2 separate regions of the Homo sapiens genome follow, and region 2 is linked to region 1. The links come from fine-mapping of genetic effects on gene expression. A gene starts in region 1. The other region holds a variant in brackets. All regions are shown on one strand. Distances are between the middles of the regions.

Region 1 (2,910 bases):
CAACTAGTCCACATTAAAAAAATGGTTTTTAGTCAATCTCAAGCAAATTAGGCCACCACGAACAGAAGCCTTAGAAGAACTGCACTGCTTGACGCCTACCTTTAAATGGCTAAGAGAAGCTACGAATGAATTAAATAAGTTGGCCAAATCCAAGTGCCTCACATAGGCTTTATAATAGCTGAGAGGTGACTTCCTGAGCGACAAATCTAAGTTTTTATGCTAGATATTTTGTTCAATTAGGGCAGGTGTCCCCAGAAAAAATGTTAAGAAAAATGTGCAGAGTATCAAAATGATGTTTTCTCACTTATTTTTTCTATGTCTCTAAGTATCCAATAAAAGGTAAACAACGGAATAATCATTTTCTATCTCACAACCCCAATACCTCCTAACAAAACCCTATTTTATTTACCAAAGGAGGCCCAGGGAGTATCAGATTAGCGCCAGTCTAAGGGAAGGCATTTTTCCAGACTCGGGAGGCTATAGATAGGGGCTTTCTTCACCAGCCAGAGCTGAGTTCCAGAAAGCACTGGCAGCCGGGGTGGCCAGCTCTAAGGTCCCAGATCTCTAAGTCAGTTCCCAAGGTCCTTTCAGGCGGGCGGGGACAGAGTCGGGTTTCGGGGGATGGGTTAACCTCCGGGCCTCACGCACTGGACCCCACCCTCAGGGCACAAATGGAAAGGATTGGCAGGAGTCGGGAGAGGGGTTCGCCCCAACACGGCTCCTCGGAGAAGACGGCGGGGCCGTGAAACAAAGCTGACTGGTGCTGCCGGAGAGGAACAAGCTCCCGCAGGAGCTCACTTTGAGGGGACAAGAAGGGGGCGCCGCAGGGTGCAGGGGCGGGCGGATAATGTCTGATCGCCTGGGCGAGACGCCGGGCAGCTGGCCGAAATGGGCAGCAGGGAACCCTAGACCAGTCGATCGACACCGTTTTACTTTTTGTGGGGAGGGGAAGCAGTATCAAAATTTCTTCGGGCGCCAGAACGAGCGGCAAAGCTTATGGGAGTAGGGCCGAGGCTAGGACCCGGCTTCCGCCAGTCCCGCTGGGCCCACAGCCGGCCCTCTGAGGGTCACAAAGGGGAAGGTGTCTGGGATCCACGCCCTGCAGCCCCGCAGCTTTGAGGGGCCGTCATCTAGGCGAAGGTGAAGGCCCTTACCGCTTGAAATCCCGCATGAGCCTCCTCCGGGCCGGGGTCGACATGCTCCGCAGCTGCCCCGCGGTCAGTCTGAAAAAAAAAAAGTCCCGCGCAGCCCCCCCACCCCCCGGCGCGGCGGCCGAATCACTGTGGATCGCCGCCGCCGCCGCCGCCGCCGCCGCCGCCGAGACTGACAAACAACCCTGCAATGACGTCTCCCTCCGCCGCCTCCGGATCCCTCCGCCCTCCGCCGCTACCACAGTGTGAGTGCTGGGGGAGGAGGGGGCGGGACGCGGGAGCGCGCCTTCCCCGAGCCCTTCAGCGGGGCGCGGTTCCCCCTGGGCTTCCTGAAGTAATAGACAAATTTGTGTTCTCTGTGTTCAGACTAGAGGTTGTGGATTCAAAGACCACGAAACAGAAACACTATCCCGTCTCCCTCCCCGTCACTAGTTTAGGCTCGGCGGGGTGGAGAAAGAGGGACGCATCCGGGCCAGAGATTTCAGGGAAAGGAGGTGGGATGATGTAAGATCACGTGACTGCCCGCGGCCTTGTCAACAATCCACCCCTGAGTGGGAGGGGGAGAAGTATCTAGAACCACGTGTCCCTATGACGCGTTTAGAACGGGTCACGTGAGCGCCTCGCCTGGATGTGAGTTTCAGCCAGGTCTGTGAAGCGGGTTTAAGAGGGTGAGGGCGGGATAAACCTTTATTAGTTGTTTTCTGTTTATCACAGGTATAGAGACAACATTACCCAAGAGGTCATGGCAGAATCAACAGCTTGTTTTGTTTTCTTTAAACCGGGACCAAAAATAATTCCCCTCTGGTTGGTTCAGTGGCTTATTAACTCTGGTACTTGGGGCAAGAAGAGTGAGAGGATCGCACGATCTTCTAAGGCAGCCTTGAATACTGAGGCCCACACAACAATCTCCTGAAATGGTTCCTTGAAGCTACCAGATAGTCTTTCTGCTTTGCAGTGGGGTTTCTAGTATTGGAAATTCTGGGCAAATATTAAAGGATGGTGTATTATGCAGTTTTTCCTTTCTGGGTCTGCTTTCAATTGAAGATATGTGTCAGAGTCCGGGGACTTGCCTATGGTGGGGGAGTACCATTGTATTTTTAAGGAATGTGGGGGTGCAGTCTTCCAAGCATATCAATGAGTGGTTGGTTGTCAAAGAAACCTACAAATATGATTCATATTCTGGGGGAGAGCTCCGGCAGACATGAGTGAGGGTTATATATCTAGCCTGAGATAACTTCAGGTTTTCTACACTAGCAAGAAAGGTGCAAATGGGCCAGAAGGGCCCCCCACCACCAGGGGGTTCAGAGGTGTTGACCTCCCAAAGACCTTGAATATTTTCTGTGGTCACCGTCCTTCCCTCTATTGCTTCCAATTCCTACCTTCAGGACTTTGTTATACTAAGGACTCTGAGTACTTTTGTATCCATTTGGGGAACTGTTCAGTTCAACAGGTAAAGGGAGGGTGGAATGAGGACCTTAACATTGCCTCAGCCTTGCCCCTGATTCCATGGAAGCAGAGTTAACTTTTCTGACTTTCCTTGTACCTCTTTCTTCAAACCCTGAATTCCCTCTCTGCTTCCAGTGACTGCCTTGGTGATCAGGTTAGCCAGGCCTAACTCTTGATAGGTCCTGTTAGACATTCGCAATGTGTTTTTTAAGTTAAAAGCTGAATATTCTTAATTTTTTTGCCTTTCTGCCATTGCAGTCCTAACCCTTCCAATAGCAAAGGAGGAAGACACACAGGTAGGGTTACATGGAGA
Region 2 (2,910 bases), 400 kb before region 1:
AGCCTGGGCAACAGAGACAGACAGAAAGAAAGACAGAAAGAAAGACAGACAGAAAAGAAAGAAAGAAAGAGAAAGAAAGAAAGAAAGAGGGAAAGAAAGAAAAGAAAGAAAGAAAGACAAAAAGAAAGAAAGAAAATTATTTTTAAGTTAATAAACATACGCCAGCATCTTTTTCTTTTTCATCCTCCTTGTCATCTTTGTCTTTTTTCTTCTCTTTAGAACTTTCCCCACCATCAGTTTTCTCTTTGGACCTAGATCTACCAAAAAAATAAAAGAGACAAGAGAAATGTCATTCATTTGTACTTAGAAACATTCATTTTTAAATACTTTTTTTTTTTTTTTTGAGACAGTGTCTCACTCTGTCGCCCAGACTGGAGTGGAGTGAAATGGTGCGATCTCAGCTCACTGCAACCTCCACCTCCCGGGTTCAAGCGATTCTCCTGTCACAGACTCCCGAATAGCTGAGATTACAGGTGCCAGCCACCACACTCATATAATTTTTGTATTTTTAGTAGAGACAGGTTTTCACCATGTTGGCCAGGCTGGTCCTGAACTTCTAACCTCAGGTGATCTGCCCACCTCAGCCTCTCAATGTGCTGGGATTATAGGCATGAGCCACCTCGCCCGGCCTTAAAATACTTTTACAGGTGGGGTAAGGTGCCTCACACTTATATACCCAGCACTTTGGGAAGCCAAGGCAGGAGGATCAATTGAAAACAGGAGTTAAAGAGATCAGCCAGGGGAACATAACAAGATCCAATCTTTCCAAAATATACTAAGAATTAGCTGGGTATGGTGGTGTGCACCTGCAGTCCTACCTACTGAGGAGGCAGAAACAAGACGATCACTTGAGCCCAGTAGTTCGAGGCTGCAGTCAGCTATGATCCCATCACTGCACTCAAGCTTGGGTGACAAAGTGAGACCCTGTCTCTTTTTAAAAAAAAAAAAAAAAAAAAAAAATTTGGTCAGGCATAGTGGCTCATGCCTGTAAGCTCAGTATTTTGGGAGGCCAAGGCAGGAAGATCACTTGAGCCCAGGAGTTCGAGACCAGCCAGGATAATACAGTGAGACCTCGTCTCTATTAAATTAAAACAAAAAATACATAAGTACACTTATTAGACTTGTATTCCAATATTTAGGTAAGAAATAAACTTCTAAGAGTCAACTGTGTTTTCATATTCCATTAACAAACACCTGGAGGCTGGGCATGGTGGCTCATGCCTCTAATCTCAGCACTTTGAGAGGCCAAGGCAGGCAGATCACGAGGTCAGGAGATCGAGACCATCCTGGCCAATATGGTGAAACCCCAACTCGGCCGGGCGCGGTGGCTCACGCCTGTAATCCCAGCACTCTGTGAGGCCGAGGCAGGTGGATCACATGAGGTTAGGAGTTCTAGACCAGCCTGACCAACATGGTGAAACCCTGTCTCTACTAAAAGTACAAAAATTAGCCGGGCTTGGTGGCAGGCGCCTGTAATCCCAGCTACTCAGGGGTGGGAGGCCGAGGCAGGAGAATCACTTGAACTCGGGAGGCGGAGGTTGCAGTGAGCCGAGATTGCACCATTGCCCACCAGCCTGGGAGACAAGAGCAAAACTTCACCTCAAAAAAAAAAAAAAAACAAACAAAAAAAACAAACCCCGTCTCTACTAAAAAATACAAAAATCAGCTGGGTATGGTGGCACGTGCCTGTAATCTCAGCTATTCAGGAGGCTGA[G/A]GCAGGAGAATAGCCTGAACCAGGGAGTCAGAGGTTGCAATGAGCTGATATTGCACAACTACATTCCAGCCTGACGACAGAGCAAGATTCTGCCTCAAAAAAAAAAAAAAAAAAAAAACCTTGAAAATATAACGAAAAAAATTAATCCCATGACACTAATGGGAAGCATTACTAAATATTTGGAAATTCAACCCAAGAAAAACTGAACATACTACATACAAACAATATAGTTTGTTTATAGGTAGGATAGTTAAAATGTGATAAATGAAGAAACAGACCAATATATTAATATTCTGCAAGATAATTTATATATGTAATAACGTTTAAAATCCCAAGGGACATGCATTTCGAATGTTCTAATGTTCTAATGATTTTAGGGGATTTTTTTGAGACGGAGTCTCTCTCTGTCGGCCAGGCTGGAGTGCAGTGGCGCAATCTCGGCTCACTGCAACCTCCACCTCCCGGCTTCAAGTGATTCTCCTGCCTCAGCCTCCCGAGTAGCTGGGATCACAGGTGTGTGCCACCACACCTGACTAATTTTTTACTTTTAGTAAAGACGAGGTTTCACCATGTTGGTCAGACTGGTCTCAAACTCCTGACCTCGTGATCCATCCACCTCGGCCTCCCAAAGTGCTAGGATTACAGGCGTGAGCCACTTCACCCAGACTTCTAATGATTTTTTAATGTTAAAATAACCTGCCATTCTTGGAATAAACCCAACTTGTTTACGCACCCCAACTTACGGCATCTCATAATGAATAAAATTTCTTAATTTTAATGTAATCAAATTAGTCAACCTTTTTTCTCCTTTATAATTGGTGCTTTTTAAAGTAGTTTAGAAATCCTTCCAGATTTGATGTAAGATACCTAGAGGTGAAGAAGAAGATACTCTCTGGCACAAACTTCTAAAAGGTTTAGAATTTTGCCATCTAATTTGGTCTTTGCTTGGAATTGCTTTTTGTACACAGAATAAGGTAGGCAGTCTTATTTCATAAAAGGATACTAGATATCCCTAGAGCAATTTAAAAATTTTTCTGGCCAGGCACGGTGGCTCACGCCTTTAATCCCAGCACTTTGGGAGGCCGAGGCGGGTGGATCACGAGATCAGGAGATCGAGACCATTCTGGCTAACACGGTGAAACCCCATCTCTACTAAAAAATACAAAAAATTAGCTGGGCATGTTGGCACACACCTG

What was found. PIP is the estimated chance that this variant, and not a neighbour inherited with it, causes the effect. A credible set is the group of variants that fine-mapping cannot tell apart.
Region 2: its variant is the best candidate, but not a certain one, in a credible set for the expression of UBE2B in whole blood (TOPMed, PIP 0.89).

Annotation. Positions count from the first base shown.
Region 1 is chr5:134,369,884-134,372,793 of GRCh38, reverse strand. UBE2B (ubiquitin conjugating enzyme E2 B) reads right to left here and starts at 1,225. Exons shown (of 6, transcript NM_003337.4): 1 at 1,155-1,225. The coding sequence starts at 1,198. It also overlaps a transcript of CDKL3 not described here. RefSeq lists enhancers at 893-992, 1,933-2,002, 1,511-2,106 and a silencer at 1,413-1,462.
Region 2 is chr5:134,768,250-134,771,159 of GRCh38, reverse strand. DDX46 (DEAD-box helicase 46) reads right to left here. Exons shown (of 23, transcript NM_001300860.2): 4 at 161-257. Among named protein-coding and RNA genes, the nearest start is that of DDX46, 11 kb to the right of the region's middle. The variant G/A (reference allele first, on the strand shown) is at 1,715.